Homo sapiens: one gene and its partners. The protein of the gene in region 3 interacts with the protein of the main gene of each other region in a biochemical or structural test. Each region holds a gene or a part of one and is shown on either strand. Other genes may lie near its edges.

What was found.
Region 1: the proteins of RND1 (region 3) and UBXN11 form a complex in vitro, tested with the Homo sapiens proteins (one study listed by BioGRID).
Region 2: the proteins of RND1 (region 3) and PLXNB2 form a complex in vitro, tested with the Homo sapiens proteins (one study listed by IntAct).

The regions. Positions count from the first base shown.
Region 1 is NC_000001.11:26,289,448-26,297,089, forward strand, and holds part of UBXN11 (UBX domain-containing protein 11), read right to left. Parts: intron 7,549-7,642; coding exon 7,472-7,548; intron 4,885-7,471; coding exon 4,758-4,884; intron 1-4,757. UniProt on the Homo sapiens protein: May be involved in the reorganization of actin cytoskeleton mediated by RND1, RND2 and RND3. Promotes RHOA activation mediated by GNA12 and GNA13.
Region 2 is NC_000022.11:50,297,458-50,305,099, reverse strand, and holds part of PLXNB2 (plexin-B2 isoform 3 precursor), read left to right. Parts: intron 1-1,278; exon of another isoform or gene 1,279-1,621; intron 1,622-3,430; exon of another isoform or gene 3,431-3,637; coding exon of another isoform or gene 3,638-3,753; intron 3,754-4,588; exon of another isoform or gene 4,589-4,602; intron 4,603-4,764; exon of another isoform or gene 4,765-4,974; intron 4,975-7,642.
Region 3 is NC_000012.12:48,856,525-48,863,392, reverse strand, and holds the end of RND1 (rho-related GTP-binding protein Rho6 precursor), read left to right. Parts: intron 1-1,274; coding exon 1,275-1,384; intron 1,385-2,261; coding exon 2,262-2,396; intron 2,397-5,151; coding exon 5,152-5,397; 3' UTR 5,398-6,248; downstream 6,249-6,868. UniProt on the Homo sapiens protein: Lacks intrinsic GTPase activity. Has a low affinity for GDP, and constitutively binds GTP. Controls rearrangements of the actin cytoskeleton. Induces the Rac-dependent neuritic process formation in part by disruption of the cortical actin filaments.

The DNA.
Region 1 (7,642 bases), on a different chromosome or scaffold from region 3:
CTTTCTGCTTGCTTGTTTGCCTTCCAGCCATGCTGGGCACCCCTTGAGCTCAGGAGCATTGAGCCCTGGGCCTGGCCCAGAGTGGCTGGGCCACTAAAAGCAGGGTTGGATCCTGCTTTCCAGAAATGTCTGAGCACCCGTGCTCTGCTAGGCCCTGCCCATCATGGCGATGCCCACGCCCAGGGTCCTGCCATCCTCAGGCTCAGACTCAAGTGAAGAAGACGGGGCGGCAAATGGCGACAATGGCATGTGTAAGTATCACTGTGGGGGCTGTGGAGCCCAGAAGAGGGCCAGACCCTACCATGCTCAGTGGAGAGGTGGCAGCCCCTCACTGCACAAGTGCCCAGGGCACCCCGGCAGCTCACGCGGTGCCGCCCTCCATGTGCCTGCCCTTGACCCTCAGGCAAAGACGGCTGCAACAGGAAGTGGAACCACTATTACCACACACCTGCAAGCCAGGCCCCGCTCTGGGGACTTTACTGCAGTCACTCTGCTCTTCAGAGGAGCCAGTGCAGGAAAGGAGGCCCTGCAGGTCTGGTCCCCGCCAGAACACTCAACCAGCCTGTGGACTGGCAGGATCTGAACTCAGGCCTGCCGGGTCCCACCTGCAGCTCTCTCTGGCCCCTGCCATTGAGCTACGCACCACCCTGTCCCCACCTCATCATGTGCAGATGACTGTTCCAATGTGCTCTGATCATCCAAGCCTGGGCACACGGGCATCACAGCCAATCACATGCAGCTACACACACCCTTGCCCATGTGCCAAGCACTGGGACATGCATGACAACAGCTAGGTGACAGTGGCTGTCACAGTTTATTACCACATCCATTCAGTGGCCCTAGGAGCCCGTCAGCACGACTGAGGAGGAAATGAACTCAGAGGGGGTCAGCGATCTGCTGATCTGGGGTCTGACCCGACCTGAACCCTGCCTCAGCCAGAGCTTTTAGCCCCTTCCCTCAAGCAGAGCCCTCCCCACAGAGCAGCACAGCCCACACAGGGCAGTCAGAGTTTGCTGGCGGAGGTTGGATTTGCCCTGAGCTTCAGAGGGGAGGGAAGCGGGCAAGGCGCTCTGTGGGGACAGAGCAGGAGCAAAGGCTGGAGGCAGAAGTGCAGGTGGGGAGGGGTCAAGCCAGGTGGCTCTGGGATTGAAGGGCAAGCCCAGGGGCAAGTCACGCAGGCTGCGGAGTCAGGGGGCCTCCAACCCAGACTCAGGAGTGTGGGGCTTGAGAGGAAGGAGGGAGGCGTGTGGGGTGCTGGCAGGGAGAGGTGGAGCCATGGAGGGAGGCAGGGACTGACTTGGGTAGGGGAAGTGGGGATTTCAGAGGGGGATGAGAGGGTGAGGATTCTCAGGGGAACAGGGAAGTAGTGAGGAGTGAGGAGCTCAGAGATGCAGAGGGTGGGGGGGAAGGGAGAACTTCAGAGCTGACCAGAGCTCTCAGCCCCGAGGCCCAACACCTGGCCCCAGTGGCGTGTGACCAGAGCAGGACTGTCCCTTTCATGTCTCCACAGACCCTGAAGCACCTGGCACAGCATGCTCTGTGACGCTGGCAGAGAGAGGGGGAGAGTGAGCGATCCAGCCTGAGGCCAAGCCCCTTCATGGCCCCACCGGCCCTCCTCCCTAGGAGTCCCAGGCTCCAGGAAGTTTGATCACCCCACTGGCTCGGCACAGACGGCCCTGGCTCACCCTCCACAGGCCTCCACCCCAGCGCCTGTGGGAGCCTCTCCAACAGAGGGAGAGCAGAGCAATCAGCCGAGTGTCAGGCAGGCCAGCGGGGGCCAGGCTGTGAGCCTGAGGCCCCTGGGCGGAGCAGGGTGGCACCTGGGGAGAGAGGAACGGGGACGCCGGAGAGATGTCCCAGGAACAGAAGCTGCTAGCGACGAAAAACGTCATTCATCTGGCAGAAAGAGCCGAATCAAGGCCCCCCGCCCATGCTGAAAAAATCAAAGAACAAAAGAAGGAAGAGAACGCACGGAGGGACCACAGATATGGCCAGGGCCTCCAAGATGGAGGGCAGGGTTTTTCACAAGTTACTTTGACTTGAGGCACTCAGAGCACAAACAACCAAACAGGGCAGAGTAGGAATCCACAGAGCCAGGTCCAGAAACCAGCCACCTGGCAAGGAGCAAGGAGGTCCCCCCTGGCCAGGAGGAAGGCTGCCCTGCAACAAGATGGCAGGCCTACCTGAAGCCTGAGCCCAGCCCGCCACAGCAGGGCCCAGGGTGCGGCACTTGTGGGCCTCTGGCCTAGATCCAGGATAGACATTCTCAGAGCACCTGCAGCCACCCAATAGGGCCTCACCTCTCACTCATGCCAGGGGTCCCTTGAGAACTCTCCCCACGACACCCACCCTGGGTTCAGTTAGAGCTTTGGAGTTGGCATGCCTGGGCCTACAGTGCCCTGGGCAGCAGGGACACGCTCCCCTTCCTAGCATCATAGGGACTGCACAGCCCCCAGCTTTGCTGTGTCCCAAGTGTACTCAGCATCTTTCCCGCAGCTGTGCTCCCTCGGGTTATCCCTGACTCCTCTGGTCCTCTCCCTCATGTAAAGACACCAAGGCCACGGATTCTACTTAAATCTCTCTGCCCATCCCTTCTCACCATCCCCACCCTCAAGCTGGGCATCATCTCATCTTCTGCCTCAGTGACCAACTGCCTTACAGTGGGCTGTCAGCCTTAAGTCTTGCCCCTCTTCCCTCAATAATGAGTCCACAGACTCCTTAAGTGCCTCCCTTTACCCATCTGTGAAATGGAGTAACTCCTGGCCCCTGTCAAGGCTATGAAGATGCTGGCAGGGCACAGTGGCTCACAACTGTAATCCCAGCACTTTGGGAGGCTGAGGCAGCAGGATCACTGGCATCCAGGAGTTCAAGACCAGCCTTGGCAACGTAGCGAGACCTCGTCTCTACAAAAAATAAAGAAAATCAGCTGGGTGTGGTGGCACGTGCCTGCAGTCCCAGCTACTCAGACAGCTGAGGTGGGAGGATCACTTCAGCCCAGGAGGTTGAGGCTGCAGTGAGCCATGACTGTGCCACTGCACTCAGCCCAGGCAAAAGTGAGACCCTGCCTCAAAAAATAAAAAGAAAAATAAAGAAAAGAAAAAAGAAAATGCTTTGAAAGCTGCAAATGGCTGGGCGCGGTGGCTCACACCTGTAATCCCAGCACTTTGGGATGCCGAGGCGGGAAGATCACGAGGTTAGGAGTTTGAGACCAGCCTGACCAACATGGCGAAACGCTGTCTCTACTAAAAATACAAAAATCAGCCGGGCATGGTGGTGGGCGCCTGTAATCCCAGCTACTCAGGAGGCTGAGGCAGGAGAATCGCTTGAACCCAGGAGGCAGAGGTTGCAGTGAGCCGAGATTGTGCCATTGCACTCTAGCCTGGGCAACAAGAGCAAGACTCCATCTCAAAAAAAAAAAGAAAGCTGCAAATGGCACAAAAATGGGAAGTGATGTTTTGAGAACAAGCAGTGAGGGCGTTAGACCCTGAGATCTGGGGGGATCCAGCCAGAGCCCAGGCCTAAACAGGAGGCAGGATTCTCATGTTTGGAATCTGGGTTTTTACCTAGCAGGAAACCAAGAAGGTGTCGTCATCTTCCAAATGGGCCCCTTGGAAGCTGTGCTCCTATTCCCGTGGGACCCCTGCCCTCAGACTTTGGAAACAACAATGGCTGCAAGGCCAGAGCTAGGCGCTCTGCGTTTAACTCATTTGCTCCTTGTAACTCCCAGGGAAGAACACTCCTGTTTTGTTGATGAAGTGAATAGAGGTCATCTGCCCAAGTCACACTTGGGATAGGAGGTAGAGTCGAGTTGAGGGCCCAGGTGTGCCTGACTCTAGAGCCTGGAGAAGCATCTTTTGGGTGACAATCTCCATTCTTTGAAGAGAATGGGCCTGGTTTTCAGAAATGGCCAGTTTTATGGACCCAAATCTGTGGGTCTATAGGAGGGGACTGTGGGAGGAATCCCTCTAGATATTAGAAGTTAAAAATAAGACATGGTAGGCCAGGCGTGGTGGCTCACACCTGTAATCCCAGCACTTTGGGAGGCCAAGGTGGGCAGATCACGAGGTCAGGAGTTCAAGACCAGCCTGGCCAACATGGTAAAACCCCGTCTTTACTAAAAATACAAAAATTAGCTGGGTGTGTTGGCACACACTTGTAATCCTAGCTACTCAGGAGGCTGAGGCAGGAGAATTGCTTGAACCTGGGAGGCAGAGGTTGCAATGAGCCAAATCGTGCCACTGCACTCCAGCCTGGGTGACAGAGCAAGACTCCGTCTCAAAAAAAAAAAAAAAAAAAAAAAAAAAAGACATGGTAGGGGCCCACAGAACCAGGTGGATTCCAAGGGCCATAAGCAAACCTGGAGAGGGAGGCCAAACCTGGGAATTTGGCAGCAGCTTCTAGAACAGAAGGATTGCCTTTTTTTAAAACGGCAACATCTTCCAGATTGGTGGCGTTTTGTAGACTATGTGACCTGAGGCAAATAAGGCCTTGCTACCTCTTGTATCTCTGGGTCTCTGACAGATGAGCAAGAGAGAGCAGAGGTAGGACCGTGGAGAAGTGGGCCAGCAGGTTAAGTGGTCAGTGATGGAGGCCAAGGCTGCTCCCACATTGTCTCAGGGGCAAGTTGTGGGCTCTCAGGGCGTCTTGGGTCAGGGACCCGGGCACGAATGAGATAGGCCTCTGGGGAGCTGCCGGCCAACAGCAAACTGTTGGAGAATTCCTTTTGAAGAGGGCCTGGGGCAGACGCCCTGCTCTACCTGGCTTCCAGAACTTCTTGGCTGTCATCCAGTCCCTCTCGCCATGCTCTGAGACTGTCTTGCTCTCTGAGTCCTCCTGGTCCATGGGCTCGCCCACCCACTGCAGGCCATAGTCACTGAGGAACCGCTGTGGGAAAGAAGGGGGAGATGCGGGGCACCGTCAGCTCAGCCCCTTCCCAGGGAAAGGCAGTGTCAGCCCAAAGCCCAGCCTCAGTCTGCAGGCAATGGGGCCCCCAGAGCTGACCAGACAAAGGGATGAGTAGGGGGATCTTGCCATTTCCTGGCTGTGACCTTGGAAAGCCACCTCAGTCCCTAGAGCCTCAGACGACTCCTCTAATAAAATGGAGTGACAGTTCCTGCCACATAAGCTTGTGAGGAGGGCTCAGTAAGATCACTCAGGTCAGCGCCCAGCCCATGCGAGGGCTCGGTAAGGTCAGCCTCCTTGGCTGCAGAAATCACGTGGCCTGGCCCAAGTGTGAGAAGGAGGCAGGGCTGAGGGATGTGAACCATGTGCCAGCCTCCCTAGGGCTTGGCCGCATGTCCCCTCTGCCACAGGAAACTTCTGGACTGTCTACATGTCCACACCCCGACTTCTTTTCTCAAGCCACTCTAACCTGGCTCCATCGCCATACCTCTCTGAAACTGCTCAAGGTGCTGCAACCACCAACCTACCCGCTGCCAAGCGCATGGGCACATTTCTGTCTATCTTTCACCATCTGCTAGTTTTCCTCCCATCTCCTGGGCTGTTCCTTTCCAATTTCCTTCACCGTTTCCCCTTCCTATCCAACACCAACTCATGGGGGCCCAGCTCCATCCACACGCTCTCCCAAATATATACGACAGAACCCAAGTTTGTATTTATGCAGATTTCACCCGAGCTCCAGACTCACATTTCCAACCGTCCACACTTGGATGTCTAATGGCTGTGGCTCTTGTCCCCCTGTCAAACCTCCCCCGTGCCAGGTTTTCCTGTCTCCAGAAATGGCACCCCCTCCACCTGAGAATCCTCTGTCGCCCATTCCTCCAGGATGACCCACAAGGCCTGTGGTGCCCCCTCCAATGCAGCCTGGAACCCATCCACTGGGCTCCATCTGCTGCCACCACCCTAGTTCAAGCCACCGTCATCTTTCTCCTGGACAATCCAGGGGCGGCGCCTGCTTCCCCCGTCCTCTCCTCACCCACACCACCCAACCCCACAAAGCAGGGTGGTCTTTTTGTCATGCCACCTCTCAAACAGAAGCCTTCCAATGGCTTCCCATTTTTTCGGGACAGGATCCAGCCAGAACCACGGGCGGCTCCAATGTGATAAGGCCCCCACGACCTCTTCTCTTTTCCCGTTCTTCTCCTTCCTCCACACAGCCACCGACCGCAAGCCAAGTTATGTGGCGGGAAGTGGCACCTTCCCTGTCTAAGGCCTGGATCCTCTCACCCCATTCCCCTCCTCACTCACCAGACATCATGCCCAATGTCACCCCCGCAGGTGGTCCCCCAACTTGCCTCTGTGGTGTCACCCATTTCATCAAGTCACAGCACTCTCTGTACTTGTGTACCTGTGTACTCGTTTGTTCCCCTCCCCACAGACTGGCAGCCTCATGCAGGCGGGGGACTATGTCTGTCTTGGTCATGCTCTGCCCCAGGCCTGCCCCAAGCAGATCCTCCAGATGAGGCTGTTAAATGAATGAAGTGATAACTGTGTGGCGGAGACGCATGCAAGGGCAGTCATGCCCCTGCCCCGAGGCTCTGGTGCAGCCCTCACCGCCTGTGGCCACTGCTCGGGGACAACCCCAGGTATGAACAGCTTGGAGTGGGAAGGGCTCTCAGCTGCAATTGGAGGTTTGCTGCCAAGGTTTTAAATTAGATTGGGACTTTGGAAACCAATTCTGCGTGGAGAGGGAGAGAGGCTGAATCCCAGGAAGAACTTCTGGCAGGGCCCATGCGTGCCTGGGACCCTTCTCTGTGCCTGGTGTCCCTCTAGTTCCCTTGCTGTTTGAATGGGTCTGTGAGCGGGGGAAAGAAAGGTGACTGGGGTCACTGAGTCCCCAGTGAGCAGAAGTCACAGCCAGAGGCAGCAAATTGCTTAACCAATTCAGTGCTAGGTCCTGGGTGCACAGTGACATACAGGAGGAAACTGCTCCCTCCGTCGTGGAGTTCAGAGTCCCACAAGGGAAGAGAGATGAGGCACTGAGAAAGCTCGGGATGGAAAACCTGCCTAGGAGGCCCGGGGGATATGACTGAGGACAGTGGAACTGACCTGGGGGAGGTGGGGAAACATTTCAGCAGAGGGAACAGCAACAGCACGGCCCAAGGCCCTGAGGTGGGAAGCAGCTCCATGAGGTCAAAGACCCAGAGGAAGGGCCTCATGGCTGGAGGGGAGAGTGGTTCAAGCTAAGATGAAGAGGCATGCAGGGGCCAGCCCGCAGGGGCCACAGCGAGGACTGTAGAATTCAGTTCAGTGGGAGCCATGAGGTCTGCTAAGCAGGGGAGAGGCATGTTCAGAGGGCCCAAAAGCAGGGGTGTGCCCCAGCCCCAGACACCTCCCTGGCTCTTTAAAGTCTGGGCCAGTCCTGGGTAGGGAAATGCAGGGCAGGGTCCCTGGGTGGGATGTGACGAGGAGAGGCCCAGAGAGGTGGGCTCGGACCCAGCTCCTGAGGAACATGCCGTGAAGAGCTGGGGACTGCTGGCTGCCCGCATCCCCCGGGGCCCAGCTCTCTCACCTCCATCTCCCTGACCTGCCGCTGCAGCTGCACACACATCGTCTCCAGTTCCTCCTGCCGCTGCAGGGTTGCCTCGGCTTCAGGGAAAGACAGGGACAGGCTTCAGCTGCCCCAGCAAGACACTGCCAGGTCACCTCTGCCCTGAGGGTCATCTGGAGAAGCTGTTCTGGG
Region 2 (7,642 bases), on a different chromosome or scaffold from region 3:
CCCCTCATATTGTGCCTTCTCTGAGCTAGGCAGGCACTTGGATGCCAGGCCTCTGCCACGAGGGCTGCCTTCCCCTGAGCTGGGAGTTCTCACTCAGCTCATGCCTCCGTCCCTCTGGCTGCAGCCTGGCCGCCCTCCTTGGAAGTTGGCGGGGAACCTCTTGTGCCCAGAGCCTGCCTTGGACACGGTTTGGGGATGAGGTGGTGAGCTGCTCAGAATTCACCCAGTGGCCAGCAAGTGGCCCCCCAGCCTTGACCTCCCTTCTCTGAGGCAGATCCAGGTTCTCTGGGGGTGGGAGATTCAGTAGGGCTGGGACTGGCCACAGCCCCTCCCTCCCTCAGGGGTAGTGGCTGTTTGTGTTTGGGGTGGGGCTGTGGGTGGGGTGGGGCTGGGTCTCTGACTAATTACACGATGGGGAGGGTGGGTCAGAGCCTTGGCTGGTGGGGGGTGCTCAGGCTCTGGGGCCCCGGGGAGGCAGCTGCCCTAGCTTCCCTCTTTCTGGTCGAGGTTCCTCCACCTTCTTCCTTTCCGTGGTTTCACATCCCTTGACACAGGGCCTGCTTCTTCCCATACCCCTGGATTGTAAGGACCCCTGCCTTTCTCTGCCTACCAGGGAAGGACCCTGCACTGTTCTGGGCTCCCCCAGCCACAGGTGTGGCCTCAAGCCAGGCCCTGACACAGTGGCCCTCCTGGCTCAGAAGCCTTCTCTCTGAAGACCAAGCGTGTGAAGGGATTGGCTGGGCCCCTCCCGTCTGGCCCTGAACACTGGCACCCCGCACCCCCCCAGTGGATCCACCCTGCCCTGTGAGATTCATGAACCTGTGACAGTGACTGGCCCCAGGCCCAGTGGTGCCGGGGATGGTGGGACAGGCTGCCCCTGGTGGTACTGCAGGTTTGCCCCACCCCCGGGGATGTCTGTCTGGGGAGGAGCCTGGGGCTGGCCTGGCTGTGGAGCTGGGGGTTCTGTTTCGCACAGTCCCGCCTCTGCAGCCCAGATCCTGGAGCCCTTCACACCCAGAGGCCAGCCCACACCGTGGCCCGCTATGGTTGGTGGCCTTCCCTGGGGGTAGCCCCTAAGGCCACACCTGAGCTGCCTCATGTCCCAGGCTAGGTGAGGGAGGAGACTGCCCTGGGCTGGGATCAGGGCGCCTGGGGGCAGGTCCAGCTCTCTTCCTCAGCCCCCTAAGGTCTCCTGGCTTCTGAAAGCCAATAGTTCCTCATTCCAGTGCCAGCTGAGTCCCGGCCCAGGCCTGGGGCAGGAGAGGGAGGTGCTGCCCCAGTTCAGCCACCAGCTCTGCCAGCAGGGTCCCAGCAGCAGCAGCATCAGAGGCAGGGACTGGGCTCCTGGGGGTAGGGCCCCGGCCCCTCTGGCACAGCTGGTCAGCAGCTTCCATGGGGGGCCCTGTGTGGAGACACAGTGTCCAGCACCGATTTCTGGGCCTGATGCTGCCCCAGCTGAGTCCCGCAGCAAGCGCAAGAGAGAGAAGTGCTTGGTGTCCACCTCTGAGAAGGCCTCCTGTGTGAACACGGCCCCCTGAGGGGCCAGGCAAGGGCGTCTGCTCCTGTGGCTGGGACGGTTCCTGCCCACGAGCCTTGTGTAGGGCTGCGGCTCTCTTCCCAGGTGACCTTCTGTTGTGGTCTGGGGCCCCCGAGCCAGCATGCCACCTGCTCAGAGACAGATTGGGCCCCCTGTCAGATTGGCGTCTGGGGGCACTGTCTGCTCCTTCCAGGCAGCTTTGAGGACTTCTCAGAGGAGGAACCCCCCTGCCCTGCTGGTCCAAAGTGGGGTGCTGAAGGCCGAGGCAGTTTCCAGGGGGCTATGCCTCAGGCTGCGTGGGTGGCTGTGGTAGGAGCGTGCTCTGTGATTGTCACTGCATTTGCCTGGGGTCCATGCTCTGTCCTCAGCTGGGGTCTGGCTTTGAACCTAGGTGAGTTCTGGGGCTCTGAGGACAGGCCAGAAGCAGGAGTGTGGGGGGGTCTCTCCTGGGGGAAGCAAGGGAGGCCTGGGCCTGTGTGACTCAGACGTGGTAGGGTGGCATGGGAGCCACAGCTTGGGGGGATGGCGGGGGGCTTGAGGGTAATCCAAGTATTTCAGGGACCCAGCCATGGAGAGTGGGGTTTGAGGACCAGCAGGAGGTGAGGACTCTGTGGATCCCAGCCCTGTCAGGTGTGTTTTCAGAGCTGGGGCCTGCTTTGGAGGAGATGGAGGGCACAGAACACTGCTGAGCCCAGGCCCTGTGCCCAGCCTTGCTCCAGCCTTACCGGCTTGACACCAGGGCCTCCCTCCCACCAGCGAGGGGGAGAAGCTATTTTAAGTGGAGCCAGCAGTTGACAGGGGCAAGGGGCAGGTGGTGGGAGGGAGGTGCTCCAGCATGGCCCCCCCCACTCCCTCTCAGCCTCAGAGATTGGCCAGGGGAGCTGAGGGGCTTGGCCTCCCCACTCCTATGTTGGCACCGAGCCTGATCTGGTGACCACCCTGAGGGACTTCAGGAGAAAAGGATGTTAGGGAGGAGGGCGTGAAGGTGGGGCGCCCCAGGCAGGCCGCCCAGGCCCAGCAAAGCTCGCTGGAGGGTCCCCCAGTTCCACATCTAGACCTGGGGCCCAGTGGCTCTCGACCAGGCCCTGTGGGGTTTGAAGTCCTCAGCTCCACCATGAGCAGAGCAAGCCTCCGCGTGGAGCAAGGGGCTGGACCTGGCCTCCAGGGGCACCCACCTCCCCACACAGCTCCAGCCACGGGCATCACCTCCCACTCACTGTCCTGCCCCCACTCTGAGATGGGCATTTCCTCACTGGGAAATCCCTGTCCCTCTGGCCTCCCAAAGCCCTGAGTGTTTGCCCCTGTGGGGCCCAGCCCACACCCTGGGCTGCCTCACCCTTGGCCTGGACCCAGGTCCTGCCCAACACCCTGTGCCTCACCAGCCCCCAGCTCATCCTGGGCAGACGCAGCCCCTCTCCCCTGCTGAGACGGCCCTGCCCCCACCCCACTTCCCCATGCCACACATGGCCCCTCCCTCGGGGCTCCAGGCAGCGCTGGGTTCTGAGAGCCCCACTGCCCCTCTTAGCCCAAGTGCCCCGGCCTGAGGCTTCTCTCCCAGGCTCTTTGTACTGGGGACGAGTTCTGGGTGTTGGGGTGAGACCCTGTTGGCAGGGCTTTTCCGGCAGCACCCAGCCATGTGTGTCTGCACATGTGTGGTCATGTGTGCAAGTGGTGTCTGGCACACAGGCTTGGCGCGGTGCCCCAAGCTAATTGTGGGGTTCAGCGGTGATGGGCGAGGCGGGGCTGGGGTGACCGCTGAGGCGCTGACAGGCTGACGGGGAGATTACAGGCCTTGCTTACTGCTCACTGGCTGGGGCCTCACCCGTCCACCCCCCAACGCCCACCCCGGGGGTGAGAAGGGGGCTGTGGGCGGGGGCTGGTCTTGAGCCAGCTGCATCCAGGCAGGACCTGGTCTCTGAGCAGCCGGCTGCTGCGGGGTTGAGCTGGAAAGGGGGAGATGCGTGGGGGCCACTCAGAGGAGAGCCTGCAGGTGGGGCTGGGCACCGGCGGGCCGGGAGGCCTCCTTTCAGGAGAGACTCCAAGTGACTGAGCCCCAGAATCCCACGAGAGTCCCTCCGTGGCCGCCTGCTGTCTGACCGCATGTCCTGTCCTGATGAGTTGGTGGTTCCTGCTGTAGCCATCGGCCTCGTGTGCCCCGAGCGCCTGGCGGTGCCCACCCCTCCCACAGGAGGTCCTCAGGAAGCACGGAGACATCGGTAGGTTCATTGCGCTGCCCAGCTTTCTGACCCGAAGGACCACGGTGTAGCAAGAGGGGGCTGCAGCTGTGCCCAGGTTGGACAGGATGGGGTCTGGGACCCCGAAAGGGGTGGTTGAGGAGAGAGGTGGTTCTGCAGGCCTGGTGCGTGTGGGGACAGGGCGCCGTAGCCAACTGGATCCCACCTTCTGTCTGAGGGCTGGGGAGGACCATCCTCCAGATGCGCCAGTGGGCCGTGGCCAGAGAGGAGGCTGAGGAGGGCCTCACAACTGTGTGTAGGATGGGAGGGCAGCCTGGGGCCCCAGTCTAGGGACGCACCATATACAGGGGCTGCACTTGGTGCAGAGGCGGAGAGGGGGCTGGGGCAGGCCCCTTGGGCATGGCCAGGTGAGCTCAGGGGGTGCCTGAGGGCCAGGGCTAGATACAGAGGCCCTGGGTACCAGGTGGCCTGGGTGTGTCAGGAGGTGTGGACCAGTGGGGGCTGTGACTAACTCGGCTGGAGCAAGTGACAGGAGGAGCTGGGGCTTCATGGGGCACCCCCAGGATCCTGGGCTGGTGACCCCATCACTGCCACCAGCCAGGGTGACTTTTCCTGCTGGGACCCAGAGCCCAGACTGCAGGGGAGGCTGGCCCTAAGTAGGAACCCCACCCTGAAACCAGGCTGGCGGGGAAGGGGTGCGACGGCCTCCACCTGGGAGGGGTCCTCAGCCGAGAGTCCAGCGGGGACCGCTGTAGACGCTGAAGCGAGGCTCAGGCCTCCACATCAGTCTGTCCCTGGAGCCCCGCCCCGCCCCGCCCCGCCCCAGCTCCTAGGTCGGGTTGTGCCGGGAGCGTTCGGCCTTTGCCTCGGGTGAGTCTGGCCTTGACCCTGGGTCCGGAGTCCTGCGGGAGGCTGCTCCGGGCAGGGTCGTGCATGATTGGCAGCTGGGCCGGGAGGGGCCGAGCCCTGAGACCGACCGGGGGCACGGGCGGAGCCACCATCGGCGGGGCGGAGCTGCTCCCCGCGCCCCTTCCACGGCTCGGAGGACTTAGGTAATGGCCGGCTGTGCGATCCGATGTGCCCGACGCCAGGTGAGCGCCCCGCGGGGACGACGTCTCCTGCGCTCGTGTGACTGTCGCCGCCGCCGTCATTGTTACTCGGGTCAGACTCCCACCCGCCCGCGCGTCCTGGGCCCCCGGCCTGGTGAGGTTTGTCCCAGAGGCGGCCACGTGCTCCCTCCAGGTGCGCGAGGCCGAGGGGCGGACGGGGCGCCGGAGTCCCCGGGAGGGCGCGGGCGGTGGCCGTGGAGCTTGGGCTCGCGGGGGGCAGTGGGCGGCGCCGAGGAGGCGCGGGCCTAGTCCCTGCGCTTCCTGGCCCCGGGCGCGCTTTGCCCCTGGCTCCCGGGCAACCGTTCTGCGCCCTCCGGGGAGTCTGGCGGTGCCGGCGCCGGGGGAGGGGCTGTGCCACCTGGGTCGGCCTGCGAGGAATAGTCCAGGGCGCTCCACACAGGCCGGGTGCCCGCCTTTGGCTCTGGCCGGGTACCGGGCTCGCAGACCCACCCAGGAGACACCGCCCCCCGCCTCCCGGGCTGAACTCTGACCCGGGTCACCGGTGGGTGGGGCTGGGTGGCGGGGCCGCCGGTCTCGCCCTCGCCGGGTCTCCCGCGCGCTCTCCACCCAGTCCCTCCCCGCGCCTACCCACGGGCGCGGCGCTGCGGGAAGGGGCGGCCGGGGTCCTTGCCGACCCCCCAGCCCCACGCCCCGCGGCACCCCCCTCGCGCTTGTTTTGAAAACAGCGGAGGCTGGGATTCGCCGGCGCGTCTGTTTTGTTTCCTCTGATGTGTTTAGCGCTCTGGGATAATTGCAGATTTGCGTGTGTCGCTAGCTTTGGCCCGGCCCCCTGGCTGCTGGCTGCGGGGCCTCCGGGGCCTCCGTGGCTTTTCTGTGACGCCTGTCGCCCCGTTCCGGGACAGCCACTCTCAGACGCGCCTTGGCCTGTGCTTGGGGCAGCCTATCGCTCACTTGGTCCGAGGCTGCTTCCCCCGCCCCCGCACCGGGCCCCCCCCCCACCCCACGCAGGGCCTGTGTCCACCCCAATCCTTTGAGCCCTGGAGGGCCGCACAGCCCTAGGACCTCTGCCTTCTCCACCGCCCATGTCCTAGGTGCTCATGCCACCCCCTCCTGCCCTCCCAGGCCTAGGCCCGAGCTCTCCTCGTTCTTCATGGCGGCTGCTGCCTGGATCCCCATCTTGGCCCCTGCCGGGCCGCTGCCCATGCACCTCCTCTGGCCCCTGCCCTCTCTGGTTCCCGTGCCAGAGCCCACAGCCTGGCCTGGCCAAGAGCAGCCCCCAAGCTGGGCCTGCCCTCCCACTGGGCCTGACTGCTTTGTGCTGGTTTGATTTTAGCATTAAGAATGGTCAGTCTGGCTGGGTGTGGTGGCTCACGCCTGTAATTCCAGCACTTTGGGAGGCCAAGGCGGGTGGATTGCCTGAGCTCAGGAGTTCGAAACCGGTCTGGGCAACACGGTGAAGCCCCATCTCTACTGAAATACAGAAAATTAGCTGGGCATAGTGGCGTGCACCTGTAGTCCCAGCTACTGGAGAGGCTGAGGCAGGATAATTGCTTCAACCTGGGAGGCAGGGGTTGCAGTGAGCCAAGATCATGCCCCTACACTCCAGCCTGGGTGACAGAGTGAGACCTGTCTCAGAAAAAAGAAAAGAATGGCCCAGTCTGTTTGCTTGAAAATACTGAAAGGCAGAGAACTCCCAATTTTAGTCCCCACTGGAACCACCCCGCAGTGCAGCCAAGACTTGGGGCGGTCTCAGAACCAAGGCTGGCAGGAGTTTGGGGGCCTGGCAGCCCCCACTCTTGGCCTCATCTGGAGTAGGGCTCTGTCCTTCCCCCTTACATGCCTCTTGTTTACCTTTACCCAGTGGGAGGGGCGGGGGCCAGACTCAGCCCGTGCAAGGGGCCTGGGGGCTGCTGGTCAGAAAAAAAAAACAAAAGGGACCTCAGGAGAGGGCCACAGGTGCCCAGCCAGCAAGCAGCTCCTGCTGCCTCCCAGGCTGTCTAGGTTGTAGAGGGGAGGCCCAGCATCCCTGTGCTGCCCTTGGCCTACATCGGAGTTCTGGTTGGGGGAGGAGACCCTTCTGCTCTGTTGGCCTGGGGGTGACCTGCGGGGACAGGTCTTCTGGGCTCGCGCCCCTGCATGTCACCACCCCTTCCCGGCTCACTGAGTTTGGACCGGCAGGTGCCCAGTGACCAGATCCAGTGTTTGGACTTGTTGGGGCAGGGCGGCGGGGCAGCCGGGGCCTGTCGGGGAAGACCATAGACCACAGAGCAAGGCCAGTCCCTCAGGGGCTGGGTTAGGGAGGGTGTCTCGGGGTCTAAAGGATGGGCAGGGGCTTTCCAGGGAGCACAGTGAACATGGACGTGGGAATGTCGTGAGGCAGCGTTCTCTGAGTGGGCACAGCTGTAAAGATTTCCACACCCACTCAACCTCAAGGCAGCCCTCTGAGGTGGGCGCCATAATGACCCCCAGGTTACATATGGGGAAACTGAGGCACAGAGCAGCTTTCTGAATGGCCCACATGAGCCAGCTAGAACGTGACAGAGCTGGGGTGTGAACTCACTGGTCTGGCTCTGGACTTCAGGCCTCGAGGTCCCTGGGTGCAGCAGCGTCAGGTGTGACCACAGCCACCTAAGGAAGAAACTCCTTTTTCTGGGGTAGCTAAGCGGGAATCTTGTGAGCAGGAGATGGAGCCTGGCTCAGTGTTGAGGGCAAGATGGATGGAGGTGGGAGAAGCCAGAGGCCGGGCAGAGGAGGTAGACTTGGGCCAGGAAGGGCCCCAGACTGAGGGTGGAGGGATCATGGTGTTATTCTCTGGGAGGGGAAATCCATGGCCGTTCTCC
Region 3 (6,868 bases):
CAAATCCCAAACCAGATCATGGAAAATCAGCAAGTGTAGTCTCTGTTCCCTGTGTCACACCCCCACCCCCAATTTCCGAAAGGATAAAGGCTGTCAGTTATTCTCAAACTCCCTCTTTCAGATTAGGTTCCCATAAGGAAGGAGGAAGTGGCCATGGTGTGTGGGATAGGGTTTCCCAATGTTGGGCTCAGGGTTGACCCTGTTCCCATTATTTACTTGCTAGTCTTAGGGGAGGGGGATTGCTTGGAGCCAAAATGGAGGCCTCCTCCCCTCCCCCTTCCCCAGTGCTGCAGTGCTTCCGCTCCTCAGTGCTGCAGTGGTAAGACCCCACCTCAGAAAGGGATGGAGGAGGCTTGCTGAAGGAGCAGGCAGCTATCCCAACTCCCCTGTATTCCTTTTTTTAATGACCAACATCCCCCCACCAGCTTGGATTCCCCCCAGTTTCCATGGCGATTGTGGTGCAGGGAGAGGGGCTGCTTGCTATTCTGAGCACGGATTGTCTGGGTTCCAAATCCGCTACTGCTCCTTCCCCAGGGTGGAGGGGGCAGGCTCAGCTCCTAGCATTCTCCCATATGGGACCACCTGGGTCTGCATTGCCTATTTCCCTTCCAACGAAGGACTCTTGCTCTAGCCTCTAAATCCCCAGCCATCGGTGCTGCTGTCTTTGAGACTGCCTTCCTGAGATGTGGGGCGGTCAGGAGGTACAGCTTTCCTTTTGCCCTTTTCAGTGTAAGCCGATCTGGGTGGGTGGAGAAGTGGGGCACTGAACCCTTGATTCTCTCCCTCCCCTGCTAGCCTCCTAAAGTTCTGACCCCATGGAAAAGCAGCAGGCAGGTTATGTAACAAGGAGGTTTTTCTCTTCACTGGGGAGACCCTGGAGCAGAAGGGAGTGAAGTTGGGCAGCAGGCAGGCTCTAGAAGAGAGAAGCCCTGAAATAAGTGCTGTCTCTCTGCAGGGCTGGAAGCATCTTCTGGGACTCAGAAAACTAGTAGATCTCCAATTAAGCCTGCTGTAGGAGACCCAAACAGGGCCAAATTATACTCCACCCACTTTATTTTGTCTTCTTTCCCTTTTTCTGGACTAAGGGGGATGATATTCTTTCATGACCTTCTGGCAGACAGTCAGGTCCCAAGCTTCCAGCCGCAGTACATTCCCCCTGGGAGATGGGTGGATCCTCAGGGATTGAGGATGGTATTCCCAGGGCTTTAGGGCTTAGGCCTATTGGGGAAGGAAAACACCATGGCTCACCATCAGCTCTTTCTGGCCTACACCAGGATCTCCCTACTACGATAATGTCCGTCCACTCTGCTACAGCGACTCGGATGCAGTATTACTATGTTTTGACATCAGCCGTCCAGAGACAGTGGACAGCGCACTCAAGAAGGTAAGACTAGATCAACTCTCTAATCTCTAACTCAGCATGAGGACCAAGAAGGAATCGGGACCTTGTCATGAATGCCCTCTTGTATAACATCAAGAAATGGAAGCCAGGGAAGGAAGAGATTTGCCCAAGGCCACACCATTAGCTACAGCTCTGGGACTGGAACTTGGGTCTCCTTACCCCACTGCCTCCCGCCCTTTTTGTTATCCCATGCTGCCTTGCCAGAGGCCCCGCAAGGGAGGGTGGTATTGAAGACTCAGGAAGCAGAGGACGGAGAGTCAGAGAACCTTTAGGTGATACGGTATGAGGGTCAGGCATGGGACCTTTTGGAGGCAGCTTCTATAGACCCTGATCCCAGTCCCACTGAGAATGGGCAAGCCAGGCAGGTCTGAGCTGAGCTGCTGGTATGAAATGCTTAGGTCTGGGCAGATCCACCAATGCTGAGGAGTCCTAGGAAACCTTGTGTATCTAGCATAGTATAGAAGATGCTGGGATCATGTTCTTCCCTTGAGAAGAGACTGGTTGGCTTCCCCCTGGCATTCTGGACTTGTGAGGCCCTTTGGGGTGAGGGGGCAGATCCATGCCTATATGGTTGGCAGAGAGTGGGAGGAGAATTGCCCTTGTGCCCTCTCTGGTGACTGAGCCATAGACTGGGGGAACAGGCTCCTGGGTCAGCACTCTGGGGGCCCCAAAGGCCTCATGGGCAGGAAAATGATGTAATTAGTGCAACGGTGATGCTGTGACTCAGAGGGAGGACTGGGCTGGTGATGAGTGAGGTGATGTGTGTGACGTTGCCAGCCAAGCTTCTCCTGGTATCTGTCTGCCACTAACTCTCCTTCCTTCCTCCTTCTCCTACCCTTCTTCCTGCTCCACCCCTCAGTGGAGGACAGAAATCCTAGATTATTGTCCCAGCACCCGCGTTTTGCTCATTGGCTGCAAGACAGACCTGCGAACAGACCTGAGTACTCTGATGGAGCTGTCCCACCAGAAGCAGGCGCCCATCTCCTATGAGCAGGTGTGTGCGCATGCAAGTGCATGTCGTGGGGTGGAGTGAGGAAGGCTAGAGGCAGACAGCTTGAAATATGGCCCTGGCTCAAATTCTTCCACTATGGCAAGAGAGAATTGCTGTTATAATTAGCAAATGAGTCACCTGGAGAGAGGTGGTGGGCACCTGCTTACCCAGATGTATGCTGTCAGTTAGCAGGTGAGTTATTCCTGTGTGTGCCCACATTTCTAAGATTGTATTCTGACCACCTGCGTTAGAATCATTAGAGGTGTTTGTTAGAATTTCACACACACAAAAAAAAGAGGCCAGGTGCAAGGTGGCTCATGCCTGTAATTCCAGAACTTTGGGAGGCTGAGGCAGGAGGATAGCTTGAGCCCAGGAGTTTGAGATAAGCCTGGGCAACAAAGCAAGACTGTCTCTACCAAAAAAAAAAAAAAAAAAAAAAAAATAGCTGGGTGTGGTGGTGAGTGCCTGTAGTCACAGCTACTCAGGATGCTGAGGTGGGAGGACCGCTGCTTGAGCCCAGGAGGTTGAGGCTGCAAGGAGCTGTGATCATGCCACTGCACTCCAGCCTGAGTGACAGAGTGAGACCCTGTCTCAAAAAAAAAGAAAAGGAGGAGGGGCACTGGGTGCGGTGGCTCACGCCTGTAATCCCAGCACTTGAGAGGCCAAGGCCGATGGATCACTTGAGCTCAGGAATTCAGGACTAGCCTGGCCAACATGGCAAAACGCTGTCTCTACTAAAAATACCAAAAGTAGCTGGGTGTGGTGGCATGCACCCGTAATCCCAGCTACTCAGGAGGCTGAGGCAGGAGAATCGCTTGAACCTGGGAGATGGAGGTTGCAGTTAGCTGAGATTGTGCCACTGCACTCCCACCTGGGCGACAGAGTGAGAGACTCTGTCTCAAGGAAAAAAAAAAAAAAAAAAGGCCAGGTGTGGTGGCTCATGCCTGTAATCCCAGCACTTTGGGAGACGGAGGCAGGTGGATCACTTCAGGTCAGGAGTTCAAGACCAGCCTGGCCAACGTGGTGAAACCCCGTCTCTACAAAAAATACAAAAAATTAGCCAGGTATGGTGGTGCACACCTGTAATCCCTGGGCAACAGAGTGAGACTCTATTTCAAGAAAAAAAAGTGTGATCTGCCTAGGTTGGAGTGCAGTGGCACAATAGTTGTTTATGCAGCCTTGACCTCCCGGACTCAAGTGATCCTCCCTCCTGTCTCCCTAGTAGCTGGGACTATAGGTATGGGCCCCACGCCTAGCTAATCTTTTAACATTTTTTGTAGAGACAAGGTCTCAGTATGTTTCCGGGGTTGTTCTTGAACTCCTGACATCAAGTGATTCTCCTACCTTGGCCTCCCAAAGTGCTGGGATTACAGTTGTGAGTCACCACACCTGGCCTGGAATCTGCATTTTTTATAAGACCCCTGGATAATTTCTTATGTGCATGAGAGCATAGGGTTGGGGGACTGAGTTTCGCTCTTGTCACCCAGGCTGGAGTGCAGTGGTGCGATCTCAGCTCACTGCAACCTCTGCCTCCCGGGTTCAAGAGATTCTCCTGCCTCAGCCTCCTGCGTAGCTGGGATTACAGGTGCCTGCCAACACGCCCAGCTAATTTTTGTTATTTTTAGTAGAGATGGGGTTTCACCATGTTGGCCAGGCTGGTCTTGAACTCCTGACCTCAGGTGATCCACCTGCCTTGGCCTCCACTGCACCTGACCTGGGGAGCTCTTAAGAATACTAATACCGGCCAGGCGCGGTGGCTCACGCCTGTAATCCCAGCACTTTGGGAGGCTGAGGCGGGCAGATCACAAGGTCAGGAGATCAAGACCATCCTGGCTAACATGGTGAAACACCATCTCTACTAAAAATACAAAAAATTAGCCAGGCGTGTTGGCGGGTGCCTGTAGTCCCAGCTACTCGGGAGGCTGAGGCAGGAGAATGGTGTGAACCCGGGAGGCAGAGCTTGCAGTGAGCCGAGATCGCGCCACTGCACTCCAGCCTGGGCAACAGAGCGAGACTGTTTCAAAAAAAAAAAAAAAAGAAAAGAAAGAAAAAGAAGAATACTAATGCCTTGGCTCTATACCCAGAATTTTTTTTTCCTTTTCCTTTTTTTTTTTTTTTTTTTTCCAGAGACAGGGTCTTACTCTGTCACCCAGAATGAAGTGCAGTGGTGTGATCCTAGCTCACTACAGTGCAGAACTCCTGGGCTCAAGGGATCCTCTCTAGTATTTGAGACTATAGTTGTGTGCCCACTTCCAGTGAATTTTTAAACATTTTTTAAAAGTGTTTATTATTATTTTATTATCTTTATTTTTGAGATTTATTTTTGTAATTCCAAAGCGCTGGGATTATGGGTGTAAGCCACCGCGCCCGGCCACCTAGGCTGGTCTTGAACTCCTGGCCTCCTCAAGTGATCCTCCCATCACAGCCTCCTGAGTAGCTGGGATTAGAGGCACTAGCCACTGCCCCAGCTATCCCCAGAAATTCTAATTTAGTTTGGCATCAATATAGTTTTAAGAGTATTCCAGATGATTTATAATGTGCAGTCAGGCATCGTCTTAAGAAAAAGAGGCATCATCAGACAGGGTGTATGCCAAAAAAAAAAAAAAAAAAGAAAAGATAATCGAATAATCTGCAGAGGGTGGTGTTTGGAGACTGGCAGCTGGGTCCCCTCTGGAGTGGCCCTGGGGAGTGACGCACAGAGGCAGCGTCCCAGAGCCATTTTGGCCCACTGCATTAATGCCCTCACCCCCTCCTGCAGGGTTGTGCAATAGCAAAGCAGCTGGGTGCAGAAATCTACCTGGAAGGCTCAGCTTTCACCTCAGAAAAGAGCATCCACAGCATCTTTCGGACGGCATCCATGCTGTGTCTGAACAAGCCTAGCCCACTGCCCCAGAAGAGCCCTGTCCGAAGCCTCTCCAAACGACTGCTCCACCTCCCCAGTCGCTCTGAACTCATCTCTTCTACCTTCAAGAAGGAAAAGGCCAAAAGCTGTTCCATTATGTGAAGTGGAAATTGGAGGGGGGAGACAACCCCCTACTTCCTCCCTTGGGGTGCAGAGGCACGGGGAGAGGGAGGATGAGACAATTTAGGACACTGGACATGAGTTTTTCAGATGGCCACGGTGAGGGCTTGGAAGGAGACAGGAATGGGGCGAGGAAGGAGCCAGGCCCGGCATGAGGACCTGACGCTGAGAGAGAACCATCATACCCCAAGCCAGGCACTAGATTTTGGAGGGGGCGACTACCCCAGTGCCCCCCCCGCTCCAGAGGAAGGAAAGCTGTGGGGGACGGGGGGCATGCTGGCCTCATGGGCTTGGGGGCCTACAGCAGCCTCACCTTCAGCTTCATGCCTCTTCCACACAGCGTTTCCATGCAGGTCAGGGGATGGGAGGGGTCCCTGAGCCCTTCCCTTCCCCTCTAAGGAGGCAGCAACGGAGAGTGGGGAAGTGGAGCGGCAGCTCCCTTGGGGGCTTAGCCCAGGTGCTTCGTAACTGCAATCGGAAGTGCAGGAGCTGGTCAGAGCCAATGAGAAGGAAACCTCATCTTTGCATAGCCCATGCCTCATGGAGAGGTGACATCATACATTCACATGCTTCTCACCTAAGTCCCCAGGGTCCAAGGGAGAAGCCCCAGACCCCCTTCTCTTGCAGAGTGTGGGGGTGGTGGTGCTGCAGGGGCAGGGCTGGGTGGGGGTCACCAGACTTTTTCTGCCCTTAGGGTAGTACAGCTGGCATTTGTTTTATAGACTCTTGTCTTTGGAATTGGGGGGAGGGGGGGAGTGTTTCAATCTGTTATATGTTCTGTGTTTAATGAAGAAAACCTATTTATTAATGAAAAATATAATACATATAAAGAATTTGGCTCCGTATTTTTTTCTGTTTTCTTTAGTTGTTACAATTGGTATTTTTTTTTTTTGGTCTTTTTTTTTTTTCCTTTTTGTGGAGAACAGGGTCTCGCTATATTGCTCAGGCAGGTCTCAAACTCCTGGGCTCAAGCTATCCTCACATCTCTGCCTCCCTAAGAGCTGGGATTACAGGCATGAGCCACCGTGCTTGAGCCCTTTGGTTGATGATAATGAGAGAAAAGCTGTCCTGGGACCCTTTCTGTGGGTTGCAGAGGGGCTGCCTCCACCATTCCCCAGCTCCTCCAAGAAGGAGCTTCTCTCTTCCCCCATCCCCCTGCCCTAGCCCCACCCAAGACCTACTAAACCAAGGAAGGGCTCCTTAGCCCGAGAGCAGGGGTGCAGGGGTTCTCAACCCTGGAACTATTGACATTTTGGACTGGATAATGCTTTGTTGTGAGGGACTGTCCTATGCAGCCCAAGATGTTTAGCAGTGTCCCTGATCTGGTGGATGCTAGAAGACAGCACCCCACTCTCCAGCTATCACACCCAAAAATGTCTCCAGACGTTGCTAAATGGCCCCTGTGGAAAAATTCTGGTTGAGAACCACTGCCCTGGAGAGTCTAGAGGAGAGA